4 linked regions of the Homo sapiens genome follow. The protein of the gene in region 3 purifies or fractionates together with the protein of the main gene of each other region. This does not show direct contact. Each region holds a gene or a part of one and is shown on either strand. Other genes may lie near its edges.

What was found. Proteins that work in one complex are often made in the same cells at the same time.
Region 1: the proteins of RETNLB (region 3) and LONP2 purify together in Homo sapiens (affinity purification with mass spectrometry; one large-scale study listed by BioGRID and IntAct). This does not show direct contact.
Region 2: the proteins of RETNLB (region 3) and PLXNA2 purify together in Homo sapiens (affinity purification with mass spectrometry; one large-scale study listed by BioGRID and IntAct). This does not show direct contact.
Region 4: the proteins of RETNLB (region 3) and SMOC1 purify together in Homo sapiens (affinity purification with mass spectrometry; one large-scale study listed by BioGRID and IntAct). This does not show direct contact.

What each region holds. Positions count from the first base shown.
Region 1 is NC_000016.10:48,355,075-48,358,105, forward strand, and holds the end of LONP2 (lon protease homolog 2, peroxisomal), read left to right. Parts: 3' UTR 1-1,590; coding exon of another isoform or gene 1,591-1,636; 3' UTR 1,637-2,275; downstream 2,276-3,031. UniProt on the Homo sapiens protein: ATP-dependent serine protease that mediates the selective degradation of misfolded and unassembled polypeptides in the peroxisomal matrix.
Region 2 is NC_000001.11:208,041,629-208,045,384, reverse strand, and holds part of PLXNA2 (plexin-A2 precursor), read left to right. Parts: intron 1-174; coding exon 175-318; intron 319-642; coding exon 643-877; intron 878-2,181; coding exon 2,182-2,324; intron 2,325-3,018; coding exon 3,019-3,287; intron 3,288-3,756. UniProt on the Homo sapiens protein: Coreceptor for SEMA3A and SEMA6A. Necessary for signaling by SEMA6A and class 3 semaphorins and subsequent remodeling of the cytoskeleton. Plays a role in axon guidance, invasive growth and cell migration.
Region 3 is NC_000003.12:108,754,885-108,758,821, reverse strand, and holds RETNLB (resistin-like beta isoform 1 precursor), read left to right. Parts: upstream 1-1,411; 5' UTR 1,412-1,636; coding exon 1,637-1,763; intron 1,764-2,233; coding exon 2,234-2,314; intron 2,315-2,916; coding exon 2,917-3,044; 3' UTR 3,045-3,184; downstream 3,185-3,937. UniProt on the Homo sapiens protein: Probable hormone.
Region 4 is NC_000014.9:70,008,416-70,012,171, reverse strand, and holds part of SMOC1 (SPARC-related modular calcium-binding protein 1 isoform 1 precursor), read right to left. Parts: intron 1,419-3,756; coding exon 1,226-1,418; intron 688-1,225; coding exon 605-687; intron 1-604. UniProt on the Homo sapiens protein: Plays essential roles in both eye and limb development. Probable regulator of osteoblast differentiation.

The DNA.
Region 1 (3,031 bases), on a different chromosome or scaffold from region 3:
TCTTGGGTATTATGAGTAATGCTATGAACATGGGTGTACACATCTCTCTTGAAGTCCCTTCTTAGGTCCTTTAGGGATACATATCCAGGAGCAGAACTACTAGATCACATATGCTAAGGTCTGAATGTCCCCCCACCAAATTCGTATGTTGAAGCAACCACCAACGTGATAGGTGAGGCTTTAGGAGGTGATTATGTCATGAGAGCTCCATCCTCATTAATGGATTTAGTGCCTTTATAAAGGGGCTCAAGGGAACCAATTACCTCCTTTTTGCCCTTCGATTCCCTTCCACCATATGAGGACACAGCAACAGGCCCCGTCCTAGAAGCTGAGACTGGGCCCTCAATAGATGATACCAGTCTGCCAGCACGCTGATCGTGGGCTTCTCAGTCTTCACAACTATGAGAAATAAATTCGTACTTTTAAATTACCCAGTCTCAGGTATTCTGTTACGGTTAACACAAATGACTAAGACAACAGGATAATTCTGTTTAACTTTTTGAGAACTGCCAAACTTTTCCACCGCAGCTGCACCATTTGACATTCCTTCCAGCAATGCACAAATGTTCCAGTTTCTCCACATCCTTGCCAGCACTCATTTTCTGGGTTTTTTATAATAGCCCTCCAAATGGGTGTGACGTATTTTGATTCTATGTCCCTAATGACTAGTGATGTTGAGCATTTTCTAGCATTGATTTTTAAGATGTTACCCAAAGACCCCTTGTATCAAAATAAGCTGGATTTTTTTATTGAAAATTATTAACTCTAGAAATTTTAGTTTAAACTAGACTTAGGGATATGTGTATTTTACCGGTATTCCACGTTTTATGCATGGGTTTTTAAAACTTCTCAAGTATTAAAACTAAAAGCTTTAGGTGCTTTGCTTATCAAGAAATCCTACACTGTCCACTGGAGACATCCATGTTTTTACTTGGCTCTGCCCCTTTAGTGGTCCCTGTGAACCTTACCTCAAACCATGCATCTGGGGCAGAGATCCTTACTTGCTTGGTGGTTACAAATGCAAATACAGTGAAGAATGTCATCTTTGTGATTGTTCCTGAAATAGTTCACGAGAAATCCATGACCGTAAAGTACTGTGATAGTGATGTCTACCACTGTGAGCTTCCAGTACTAGGTGATTGGTCTGCATTCACAGTGACCAAAATCAGCTATGTGGCCAGGTAATTCACTGCTGAGGGCTTTGGATTTTCCTTTATGAACTACTGAAATGAGGTCAACTTGACTATTACTAAGGGACATTTTGCTACAAAGAATGTTAGTTTTGCCAATTCCCTTTCCAAATCTAAAATTTATTTTAACCAGGATTTTAGATGTAAACATCAAGTAGTTTTGGTTGTTTCAATGAAGTAACATGTTTAAGCTCACATTATTTGAAGTACTTCAGTTCCTATTGCCATGAAAATTGTATCCAGCAGCTAAAAAAAAAAAAAAAAAAAAAGACTACAGTTAGTCATTATCCAATTTGATGATTTATGGTCCAACACTAATGCTCATTTTTTTTGTTTGTTTTACAAACATTTGGTGGATACCACAATGAAAACTGCACTTAAAAAACAAAAATGCTGAAAGAGGAAGGAAATATCAAAAAGGTCTGAATAGACAACAGGCAAATATGGTGAGTGGTCATTGAGATGTTTTAAAAGTTACAGCAAAAGGACTTCTAAAACAATTTTAGGAAAAGCTTTGTCATGAAAATTCATTTCTTTGGAAATACTGTAGTTTGTACTTAATGACACTGTCAGCACATTTCTAGGCAATACAAACTCTTGAGGCTAAATCCTCATCCTGACATGACAGTGCAAGCCTGTCAAAATGTGACCCCAAAACCAGGTGTCCTTTTGCTCCATTATTTATATCTGTAAACCTGTTATTATTTTCAGAATTCAGAAAGGCCTAAGAAAATTACATCTATGATAATAAAGTGTATTTCTTTGTCAAGTTTCTAGAGCTATATAAGGATAGCGAAAATATTTGGTTCAGCAAGACACTGGGGTATCAAGTCAGGCATAATAAGCACTTTATAGCACATCTAGCCTTCCTCATTCCCTTACGCAGTGGACATCATACCCTTTTGTGGAGGAGGGACCAGGCAGAGAAGGTATTTAAATAAAAACTGGTAGATACAGAGTCAGAAGTCAACCCAGGCAGTTAGAATCTACAACCCACACTGTTTGCCACCAAATCTTAGTAGATGCTTGATAAGGAATTTTGTTTGGATGGTGCCATTTTTAGATAAACGTACGTTTCTTTTGGTAAATTCAGGTTAGGATCATAAGCAGTAAACTACCAAATACTCCTTTGTGCTTTGAACATGCACACTGGATGAGTGGGGAGGGGAATGACAAAGCTTCAAACTCCGGGTCTCTGTAACACTCTATCTGTACCTTTCATGTTTAACCTACACAAATACCACAGTCCTGCGTGGTAGTTCACACACACTATTCACCCTGTCGAGTTTCGACATTACTTTTATGTCCATTCTAATGCAGCAGTCACAGACTGACCCCCCAGGTATGTTGGATTTGATCCATTATTTTCTTAATTTGGATTACTTACCAATTCTTCTAATCAGGAGTGTGAATGAAATAGAATTCTACCATTAGTAGAATCACTGCAGATGTTTCTAAATATGAAGAGCTTTTGGGGGTTGGAGGCAGCACACTATTATTTTGGTGAGCTAAGCTATCTACAGCCACTTACATACGTTTGAAGTTTGCAGAAAGGTGGGTCTTAAAATCATACATATTACAATAAAAATTACTCACAAAGGAAAAACTGTTCCCCAAAAATTAACACACCAAACTGGCCCATGATTAAATAGGACAATTTCAAGTTTAAGGGTATAAAAGCAATAGAACAAAGTTAATAAGTATCTCCCATACCTACCCCATGTACAGCCTCCTGAAAGACACCAAAAATAAGAAATGGAGGAAGTCTTCGTTATAACAAGCAATTTCAGGACAAGAGTTATGCCTCATAAATCAAATGTGTAATGGACCAAGAAATATGG
Region 2 (3,756 bases), on a different chromosome or scaffold from region 3:
CTTTCTCTCTAGATCATGGCTGTTAGAAGTCCCCTCCACAAAAACTTGCCAAGGAGTCATTTCCTGGTTTTTGCACTGCTGCCCTTCCCCGTCTCCTTAATCTCTTTTTAAGTAGGCAATTAACTTGTGCGTGCATGTGTCAATTATGCCTATAAAGACTGCTATTCTCTACAGGGCAAAAACCTCTGCCCTCCTGCCTCTGGAGGGGCCAAACTCAACTACACTGTGCTCATCGGAGAGACCCCTTGTGCTGTCACCGTATCTGAGACCCAGCTTCTCTGCGAGCCTCCCAACCTCACCGGGCAGCACAAGGTCATGGTGAGTGAGCCCTGCGTCTGTAATGCCTCCTTCCCGCCTCGTGGTGCATGTGTGATCTGTCCTAAGGAAAGGCTCTCTTCTGTCTCGTTGCCTGACTCACCCCCTCCATATCTCCTCATCTCTGGGTCCTACATCAAATTGGGTATAAGCTGAGAACACAAGAAAAGAAAGGCAGATGCCGAGGCAGGAAATTGCTTTTTATCTAGAGCTGCACTGTGTGGTTGTGGTCTGTCATGTCCTTCCTCGCACTGTAAGGATCTGCTGGCATGCCCGGGCTCTACACCTGTGTGCATCCATGTGCGTCTGTATGTGTACAATGCACAGGTTCACGTGGGCGGGATGGTGTTCTCGCCTGGCTCGGTGAGTGTCATCTCAGACAGCTTGCTGACCCTGCCAGCCATCGTCAGCATCGCGGCCGGCGGCAGCCTCCTCCTCATCATCGTCATCATCGTCCTCATTGCCTACAAGCGCAAGTCTCGAGAAAATGACCTCACTCTCAAGCGGCTGCAAATGCAGATGGACAATCTGGAGTCCCGTGTGGCCTTGGAGTGCAAGGAAGGTTAGTGGAAGCACACCCTCATTTGCTGGGTCCCTCTTTCTCCACCTGCCTTATTGCCCTTCTCCCTGCAGACAACTCCTATCTTTACTCCCATCGCTGCCAGCCATGCCTCTGCATTCCACTTTCACCCCTGTTTTCCCAGAACTTCTTTTGCTTATAGGGTCAGAGATGTCCAATGAAGAATGCCCACTGCATGAGGACCCAGGTCCAATTGCATTGTTCTAGTCCCTTCTTTGCCCTGACCCATCCCACAATCTGGCAAACACTTTCTCCCTCTCAGGGCCTCAATGTCCCCACAGTCAGAGTCCCCAGGCTCCACAGCCCCAGACTCTAGATCCCCCATGGGAGTGTCCAGCTCTTGTTTTTCTGCACACTGTCTTCGCAGCACGTGGGAGCAGCGGCAGCAAAGGCAGACAAGCACCTGCCTCATCTCCCCCAGGGTTTGTTTTCCATCAGTGCTGCAGGCTGAGCGCTCTGAAGGCCGCCACTTGCTGGTGTCCTTGGCTGTGGACGTGTGTGGGAGTGCAGATTGTGTTTTCTCCCATGTCCCACGCAACCACAGCCTCGAGGTGACGAGTGTACCTGGCGTCCTCTCAGGCTGAGGACCTGGCAGGCTCTCTGGGTAAACAGCTCAATTAGGAATGAAAACATTTCTCCTTTTGCTGCAAATGTCAAGATCAGAAACAAGCCCTCTGCTGGATGACAGGGAAGAGCTGGGCTGGGAAATAGGACATGTGGAGCCAAGGTTCCTCCTGGCAACAGGGCTGGTGAGTTTGGCAGAGGAAGGAGCCAGGAAGACAGGTGTGCCACCACCAAGGTGAGGCTTCTGAAGCCCTTGCCTTCCCAAACTCGGCTCTCAGCTGAGCGTCTCATGACCAGACCTCCCCTAGGCTTTTGCATCTTGATTTATTACCTTGATTAGAAAAGGGCAGCACTTTGCCTGTTCTGGTCTTTGCTGGACCCCCTCAGCCATGGTCTCTCACCTGCCTCCAGCATCTCCGTGATCTTTACTAAACGGCCCAATCATGATACTTTTTTTTCCTTGTTGAAACTACACTTGTAATATGTAAAGAGAAAATTTGAAATTATAGATAAGTATAGAGGAGAAAATAACATAAAAATCACCCATTTCCCCACCACCTAAAAACAGCTGGGAGTAGCCCCGCCCTCTGGAGACACACTCCCGTAATCCTCAGAGTCTCTACAAAAGGTCCTCCCCTCGTCCTTTGCAAACTTCTTCTCCCTCTTTCTCCTCCCCCGACTGGGGCTTCCCCACGAGCCTCTCCGTCTGCTTATTCTCATAGCTTTTGCTGAGCTCCAGACGGATATCAATGAGTTGACCAGTGACCTGGACCGCTCAGGAATCCCTTACCTGGACTATCGTACCTACGCTATGCGAGTCCTGTTCCCGGGCATCGAGGACCACCCCGTCCTGCGGGAGCTGGAGGTAATGCCTGCCTCCTGGGCCCAGCCACCCAGCAGGGATGCAGGCCCAGGGTATCCTAGGAAATCCAGATGAGACTCAGCAGTACTGAGTAAGGTTAGCAGGGAAGAGGGGTCAGTAGTTTGTAACAGCATCTCAGCAACAGAGCTATCAGGAAGGTTACGGCTGAGGGGGCACCCAGGCTCCTTGGGATGGTTCCAGGGTAAAGCTCATTGTTTGTCATTTTTTAATTAATGACTGAACTAATTAACTAAGATCCTGCCTCATTCTAAAATGGATTTAAGATGGCTTAAAGAAAGACACAGGATTCTATGAGGTTTGTTTGTTCATTTGTTGGTTTGTTTTACTAAAGATAATAAATCAGGCAGAGGAGATTAAGGGGAGACTAGTAAACTGAAGAAGTTTGAGGGGGCATCTCCTATTCTATCCTTGGGAAAATCAGGCAGCCTCCCCTCTGAGAGCTCCGCATGGAGCCCAGCCTCCCCGGCCCAGTGCAAGGTCAGAGCAGACTGTCGACCTTAGAGCCAGCTGTTCCTACATCATCACGGGTGAGTGGAATGGGGTGGGGTTGGTTATAGGCCTCAAACATAGGGTCCTACAGCTAGTGTCATCGCCAGCAGGCCCTCAGTGAGACCCTCAGGTAGGAGGCCCGATGCCTGTCCTCTGAGGGCGTCGCCTCCACCACACCCCACCCCAGGTACAAGGAAACGGGCAGCAGCACGTGGAGAAGGCCCTGAAGCTCTTTGCCCAGCTCATCAACAACAAGGTGTTCCTGCTGACCTTCATCCGCACCCTGGAGCTGCAGCGCAGTTTCTCCATGCGCGACCGGGGCAACGTGGCTTCGCTCATCATGACCGGCCTGCAGGGCCGCCTGGAATATGCCACTGATGTCCTCAAGCAGCTGCTCTCTGACCTCATCGATAAGAACCTGGAGAACAAGAACCACCCCAAGCTGCTACTCCGGAGGTCTGGCCCGCAGCAGTGGGTGGAGAGGGTGGCAGGAGTCTGAACCTGGACAGAGCACCTCATTATAGCAGGCCCCACAAGCAGCATGAGAAGGCCCACTCCCCAGAAGGGGCACCCATTCAGAGCAGCCTGTGTCCTCACGTCTCTGCAGGGCAGAATCTGACTTTCCCTCAGCCCAGGGAGACTACAGAGTCTGAAGTCACCCAGGTGTGATGGATGAGCTCAGACCCTTGCTCGGATCTCAGCTGGAGTCCCAGCTCTGCCTCCTGCTAGCTCTGTGATTTCTGGCCAGTGTTGTAACCACTCTGTTGTTTAGTTTCCTCCTAGACAAAATGAGAAAAATAATTCCTATCTCACAGTCTCTTCCTCCCGGTGCCTCTAGAGCTGTGCTGTCCGGCACAGCGGCCCCTAGCCACAGGTAGCTGCTACAAATTAAAATGAAATAGAATGTAAAATCCAGCTCCTCCAT
Region 3 (3,937 bases):
TTTTTGATAGAGTCTCACTATGTTGCCCAGGCTGGTCTTGAACTCTTGTGCTCAAGAGACCCTCCTGCCTCAGCCTATCAAAGTATTGGAATTATGGGCATGAGCCACAACACATGGCCCCTTTCTCTGCTTCTTCATCTGCACTTCTTTAAATTTTATTTATTCATGGTGGCCACATGCCCCATCCTAGATGAGGAATCATGGCATCCTCATTCCTCTTGGCCATATGTGAATCCTCAAAGTCCTCAATCCCTTATCCATTATTCTAAAATCTAAAAGGCTCTAAAGATGAAAATGTTCTGTCCTAAATTTGAGGCTAACTCATTTGGCAGAAAAACTTGGCATGGCCTGGTGTGAGGCTCTTTATGGTCTTTTATTTATCCCACATTAATATTCATACATTTTGCATCAGGCTATTTATGCATTAGACTGCAGAGTGCTGCCCCCAACCTCCTTGGTGGTTTAACATAATATACAGAATTTGCACCTTCCATAATCTGAAACATTCTGAGTTCTGAAACATACCTGGGCCCCAGGTCTTGGATAAGGAATTGTGAAGCCCAGCTCTCTTTTTCAGCCATAGCTGATAGAAAGGGAGGTTGTGTGACCCAGAACCAAACAGTGGAATGTAAGGGGAAATCTTCTTGAGCTTCTAGAGAAAGATCTTGCTCTTAAAATAAAAAGGTAAAGCCCCTACAGAAAGTGGCCTTGCCCCACTCCTTCCTTCCTGCTCAGGGTCTGGGCTGAGGATGTGGCACCTTCTACCTTGTGACCATGAGGAGACAAGATCGAAAGATTAGCTGAGAATGGTGGGGGAAAAAGGGAAACTTTATGAGCCCCCAAAAGAACTCTGGAATCATAAACCATGCTTCTAGTTAAGTAAATACTGAACTTCCTTATTTTTAATCCAGGATTAATTAGTCTTTCTGTGACTTTCCTCCAAATGAGATTGGCCAGGGACAATAAAATGGTGTCTGAACAGGTGACAAGTAGGGCCCTCCCTCAGCCAACAGAGATAAGAAAGAGCATACACTTGGGTTTGGGATAGATGATGGGTGGATTAATTTGTTTGTTAACTGCAAAGTAACCTCTTCCTGATGAAGGATCAAACAAGAAGCCTATAATACCGGCAGACCACAGAAGGCCCAGGTGCTAGCCTTATCGGGTTGCCAAGAAGAAAGGAGAAGGAGAACAAAAAGGCAGGAGGACTCCCTTGGCAGAGATCCAGAGCAAAGGCAGCTGTTGCTTCTCATGAACACTCCAAAGTTTATCACAGTCACCTGTTACCCTAGCTGGCACAGGTCTTTGAAAGTGTGCTGGGAGTGTGTTTACATGTTTGTGTGTGCTTGTATGTTAAAGGTGCCCAGGTTAATACCAGGTGTATTAAAACGCCCTTGCCTGGCTAGTCCTTGTAGACCTTCTCTGAATGTTTTGGTGAATAAATCTGTTCTTCAGCAACCCTACCTGCTTCTCCAAACTGCCTAAAGAGATCCAGTACTGATGACGCTGTTCTTCCATCTTTACTCCCTGGAAACTAACCACGTTGTCTTCTTTCCTTCACCACCACCCAGGAGCTCAGAGATCTAAGCTGCTTTCCATCTTTTCTCCCAGCCCCAGGACACTGACTCTGTACAGGATGGGGCCGTCCTCTTGCCTCCTTCTCATCCTAATCCCCCTTCTCCAGCTGATCAACCCGGGGAGTACTCAGTGTTCCTTAGACTCCGTTATGGATAAGAAGATCAAGGATGTTCTCAACAGTCTAGGTAACTGACTGGGGTAGGGGAAGCGGGGGGTTGACCCTTGCTCATTTCTCCTGTTCTTAAACTCTAGCTTTGTCTCTATCCCATCCCAAGATCCCAACCAAGCCCAACCCCTGATGAGGGCTTTCTACACTACCCTACCCGTGTTTGAAGTCTTGGCTAAAAGCTGAGGTTTTCCTGATGAGGAGGAAGAGGTGGAGGAGAATGGTAGCTGTAATTTATGAACACTCATTATGAACCAGGTATAATCCAAGTTTTACGTAGATTATTTCATTTAATTCCCACAACCATTTTATGAGGTAAGGACAACTATTACTTCTGCTTTAAAAATGAGGAAACTAACCTTAAAAGCTGATGAGTAGGCTGATTCTGGACACAGTGTCACCTCCAAGGTAGAAGACAATTTGGAAGGGGATAAGGGGATTATGGGGAGGATAGCTCATGGGATGTACCCTTTCTTCTTTCCTACTCAGAGTACAGTCCCTCTCCTATAAGCAAGAAGCTCTCGTGTGCTAGTGTCAAAAGCCAAGGCAGACCGTCCTCCTGCCCTGCTGGTGAGTAACTCCCTGAGAGGGAATGGCGACTACGATGCCCTGTATCCTCCCCTGTCCATCTCCCTGCACCTACGTCTTCCCCCATGTCAGGTCTGTATCACCCTGGCACCCTGGGGCTGAGTCATGACTCTTGGTTCCCAGAGACCCCTTGCCCATTCTTGTTTCCCTGAAGGATGCTACTGGGGGATCTTGGGCTTCTGCCTCTTCCTTTCACCCCTTCACTTCATGCCCCTGTTTCTCAGCCCTTCCTCTCCTCCATTGTCCCATAATGATCACATACTTCATTTCTCTTTCCAATCTATTCCTCTGTTTTGATGGGTAGGGGCCAACAGAGAGGTGAATTTATCACAAATCGAAGAAAACTGAAACTCCCAAGTTCCAAGTCTCTCACTTGCATGAGTCTCTTTCATGGCAGCAAATATTTGTTTCTGTGATTTCTGTATTTCTTTTCTTGAAATGAGCTCGCAAAATTGAATGAGCTTGAGGCCCCACGAAACCTAGCTCTACCCCTGACTGCACAGGGTTGAAAGATGGTTGTGGGTAGCCCTTCCTCCTCTTAAATTCCAAGAGCTCTGATGTCTGTGCTTCATGTGCTCATGCAGGGATGGCTGTCACTGGCTGTGCTTGTGGCTATGGCTGTGGTTCGTGGGATGTTCAGCTGGAAACCACCTGCCACTGCCAGTGCAGTGTGGTGGACTGGACCACTGCCCGCTGCTGCCACCTGACCTGACAGGGAGGAGGCTGAGAACTCAGTTTTGTGACCATGACAGTAATGAAACCAGGGTCCCAACCAAGAAATCTAACTCAAACGTCCCACTTCATTTGTTCCATTCCTGATTCTTGGGTAATAAAGACAAACTTTGTACCTCTCTGTGCTTATGTCATCTCTGTTATTGTCCCCAGCTTGGGGCTCCCCTATCCAGAAAATGTTGTCAGTGTCCCAGTGGTGACATCTCAGTTTGGGAAGTGGGATGGGAAGTTAGGAAAGATATGGGAAGAATGGGAAAAACAAACTGACACTCCAAACCCCCACTTCCCTCATTTTTATTTATTTATTTATTTATTTTTTTCTTTTTTTTCATTTTTTTTTTTTTTATTATACTCTAAGTTTTAGGGTACATGTGCACATTGTGCAGGTTAGTTACATATGTATACATGTGCCATGCTGGTGCGCTGCACCCACTAACGTGTCATCTAGCATTAGGTATATCTCCCAATGCTATCCCTCCCCCATCCCCCGACCCCACCACAGTCCCCAGAGTGTGATATTCCCCTTCCTGTGTCCACGTGATCTCATTGTTCAATTCCCACCTATGAGTGAGAATATGCGGTGTTTGGTTTTTTGTTCTTGCGATAGTTTACTGAGAATGATGGTTTCCAATTTCATCCATGTCCCTACAAAGGACATGAACTCATCATTTTTTATGGCTGCATAGTATTCCATGGTGTATATGTGCCACATTTTCTTAATCCAGTCTATCATTGTTGGACATTTGGGTTGGTTCCAAGTCTTTGCTATTGTGAATAGTGCCGCAATAAACATACGTGTGCATGTGTCTTTATAGCAGCATGATTTATAGTCCTTTGGGTATATACCCAGTAATGGGATGGCTGGGTCAAATG
Region 4 (3,756 bases), on a different chromosome or scaffold from region 3:
CATTTCCCACCAGCACTAATCTGACTTTGTGCTGTGTAAAGACAATAAGATTCCAAGCCACCAATATTTAGTAATGTTACTGTAACTTGCAGGCAGAGATTGCTATAAATAAGGGGAAACCCGCACATCAGCCATTTGGAGGTACCAGGGCCCTGCCTATGTGTCTTGTGTCACACTCCATGGTCGTCCTGTGTCACCAGGGGTCATCTGCCTCTTCAGAGCAAGCAACAGACACTGTCCACATCGCTCAGGACAGCCCCTCCCTATAAGCTATCTTATCCTCACAGCTCTGGAAAAAATAACTCACAGTGCTCAAAACATTGTCCTCATGGACCTCAGATGGACAACGCATTGTGGAACTGCAGACGGGATTTTAACCCGATGACTGCATTATAAAGACGAAGAGGCACAAGGAAGAGAAGCAATGTGCACAAGAGCAGAGCTAATTAGGGATAAATCCCAGACCAGGATGTAGATCCCACGGCTCCTGGCTCCATCTTACACATGGGGAAACAGACAAAGAGGAGACAGCTTCTTCTGCATAATGAGAGGGTGGAGGAACAGAAGGAGGTGATGGCGCCGGCAGGGCAGCATCGTCTCCCACCTGGTAGCTCCCTGTCCTTGAAGGGGTCATCCGCCTCTGTAGTCTTGGCCCTGGCGTCGCTCTCACAACTGGGCATCACGTAGCTGGGAAAAGAGAGATATGGGGGGGGTTGGGAGGGGCTGGCAACTGAGCCTACTTCAGTCACTACTGCCCAGCAATGATCTATGTTGTCACCAAGCCTAAAGCACTGAGGGTGGGCAGAACGATATCTCTTGCGCTGCCCGGCAGCTACAAGGCAATCTTAGCATCAATGTTCCCACTGAGACATGTTCAGGCATGTCATTTCAACCACTCAAGCATAATAACAATGATACTTGAGCTGCACGCAGTATCTTTTTTGATCCATGGAAGCTAGTGGCTTAGAAAGGGCAATAATCTCATCAGGAAACTGACGTTCAGAGAGGTTAAGTACTGTTCCAAGGTCTTAAGTTAGAAAGAGACAGGCCTGTGACCAGAATCCAGGTCCCAGGGTCTTTCTACCTGAAACTCTTCTACTCATTGAAAACATGGCTCTCCCAGGCACTCATCTCCCACCAGACCAGGGCAGGAACACTGGGAGATGCCAGCATGGATAACAGCCAGCAGGTGCGTTTTTCCCAGGACCCAGTCTGGGGGGCTTACCGTGTGGAGGTCCCAGGCAGCGGGCGCCCTGTGTCCACCAGCACACACCAGCAGTAGCCAGTGGACTGGTGGCATTGCACTGGCTTATAGAGTCCCCCAGGGGCACATTCAGGGATGACAATACCCTCACGGGGATTCTGCTGGGCCTCTTCCAGGGCACTCTGCCTCTCCTGGTCACACGAATAGACTTTCTCTGCAAGAGAAGACACAGCCTGTGGTGACTATCACTCCTGTGATTTAACACTCCTGTCTTCTGTGCCCAGCATCCAAAGTAAGTAGCAAGGACCAGGCCTGGACCCAGGAACTGATGAGCTGCCCCATTGATGAATTACCACAGAGAGCTGTCTCCCATGCCAGCGCATGCTGAGGGGCCTGGAGGTTCAGAACCTCCCTGTGGCCATCTCTGCTGCCAGCATTCATTAGCATTCCCACCAAATAGGTTCAACTGCAGCAACAAGCCAGCCAGGGACTCCAGGGATGCCCCTTCTCAGAGTGGCAGCTTGTCCCAAGGGTGGAATATCTCAATGTTTTCAGAGTGGCTCCTGCTGATGTTCTGTCTGTGGACTGCAGGAGAGGTGGGTGCAGGAGCCTGGCTATGCTGCAGGCTGATGCAGGAATGCTTGTGCATGTAGACCCTTCCACGCCCAGACACAGCATGATGGAGCCGTGGCCATCAGCCTCATGTGGAGTGATGCTCGGCACCCAGGAGGAGCAGAAACAAGGTCCAGCCTTGGCTTCTCCCCACCCTCCAAGGCTGCTGGACAAAGTAGGCCGAGTGAATTTCAGTGAATTACACAATGCTGCTTCCATCCAATTGGAGAGAAAACAGGCCCAGCCGGATGGTGTCTGCACTCAGCAGCCTCAGTAACACATGAGCATGTCTGAACAGCCCAACCTGGTTTCCCCCGAGCCAGTCCCCGGCTGAGACAGAGCGTGGTGCCCTGTGTCCAGCATGGCCAGCTCCAGGGCATCTCACATCTGCACAGCCACTTACCTGAAAATTCTTCCCAATCAACCACTTAGCCTGCCTGGCTTTGCTCTTTGTCTTTTTTTTTCTGGTTTTGTTTTTGTTCTAATTATTAAAAATAAATAGTGTTGGGTTTCTTATTATAAAGAAGTTTTAAAAAAGAAAGTGGAAAAACCTATAATCCTGCCAAAGTTAAACACTGTACCTTCCCTAGATTTTATGTACATACATACATGGAAATACACGTGCACACATCTACTTTTTTGATAACAAAAGAATCACATCATAAACCTGTACTATTACTTTATTTTTCATTTACTTGTTTATTTACCTACTATATTTTTTTCATACCACTATTCTACAACTCTTCTCTTGAAGAAATTGACAGGAATGTAGTCTTGGGCACCCACTGAATGTTTACAGATTGTTACAAAAATACCCTTCTTAAGAGCAAGGAACTTGGTATCAGCAACCTGGAGAACCATGTTGTGCACTGAACAACAGCACTCAACTCCACTTTAAAGAAGCCAACTTCCTTGAAATAATGGCTCTGTTAATGACACACATATAGGTAAAGCACGCATGTTTAAACAAACCATAGGAGTACACAGAGACACAAAGTAGCTCAATGCAGTTTTACAGATAAGTCAGATGATAGAAAAACAATGCTATGTCTCACTGCTAGGAAAATGCTCGAAAACAATAGCCTGGTGATTCTCATTGCAGGGTAAAAATATTTCCTTAGGGGCATAAAAATATCTGAGGGCCAGGAGGCAGGCACATATAGCATATTCACTATTAAAATAGAAAATGTTGTTTTGAATTTGGGAAGTGAAAAAAAACTACTGTTTTCATAATGCAAATATAGAAAAGCTAAACAGAGTCTCCTTGGCTAGAGGAAGAGGAGTTTAAAACAGCTGACAGACATCAGACTTGGGTTTTGCCTCCAACTGTGACTACCACCAGAACAGCATCTAGAGACAGGAAAGAGACAGAAACTGAGCAGGGAGAGGGGCCTTGGGAAACCTGCTTTAAAGATCCAGCATTTTGACTTCAGCCCCTGGCTGGGAAGGTGCCATGGCAACTTCAAGGGGATTATGCAAGAATTTTTCAATAGCTCCCCCAACCCCAATTTGGTAGCCTTATTTTCCTACCTCGTATTTCATGCCATGAAAGAGGCAATAGAGGAGCAAAACCAAAGGAAAACAGCTTTTTACTGACACCACGTTCATGTAACAACCTCTGACAGAGGATTTAAATTAAGACTCTCCAGGCCAACCTTCTAAAGCCATAAATCAGACCGAAAGCAAGAGGCAAAGAGAGAAGGGGGGCGCTTCCCCAGGGGCAGAGCAAATAATGAACCTGACTTCACACCACTGGGGGTCCCGAGACCCTCAGAAATGTGGACAGAAGCCATCTAAGAAGAGGCACAGACTCGTGGCTTGGGCCCTGTTGATGGATTTCTGGAAGTCCTTGAAGGCTGTTCTGAGCTGTTTATAGTCAGTGTCTATGAAGTTCCATGGAGAATAAAATCATTAAAATGCCAGGCTCAGTGGCTCATGCC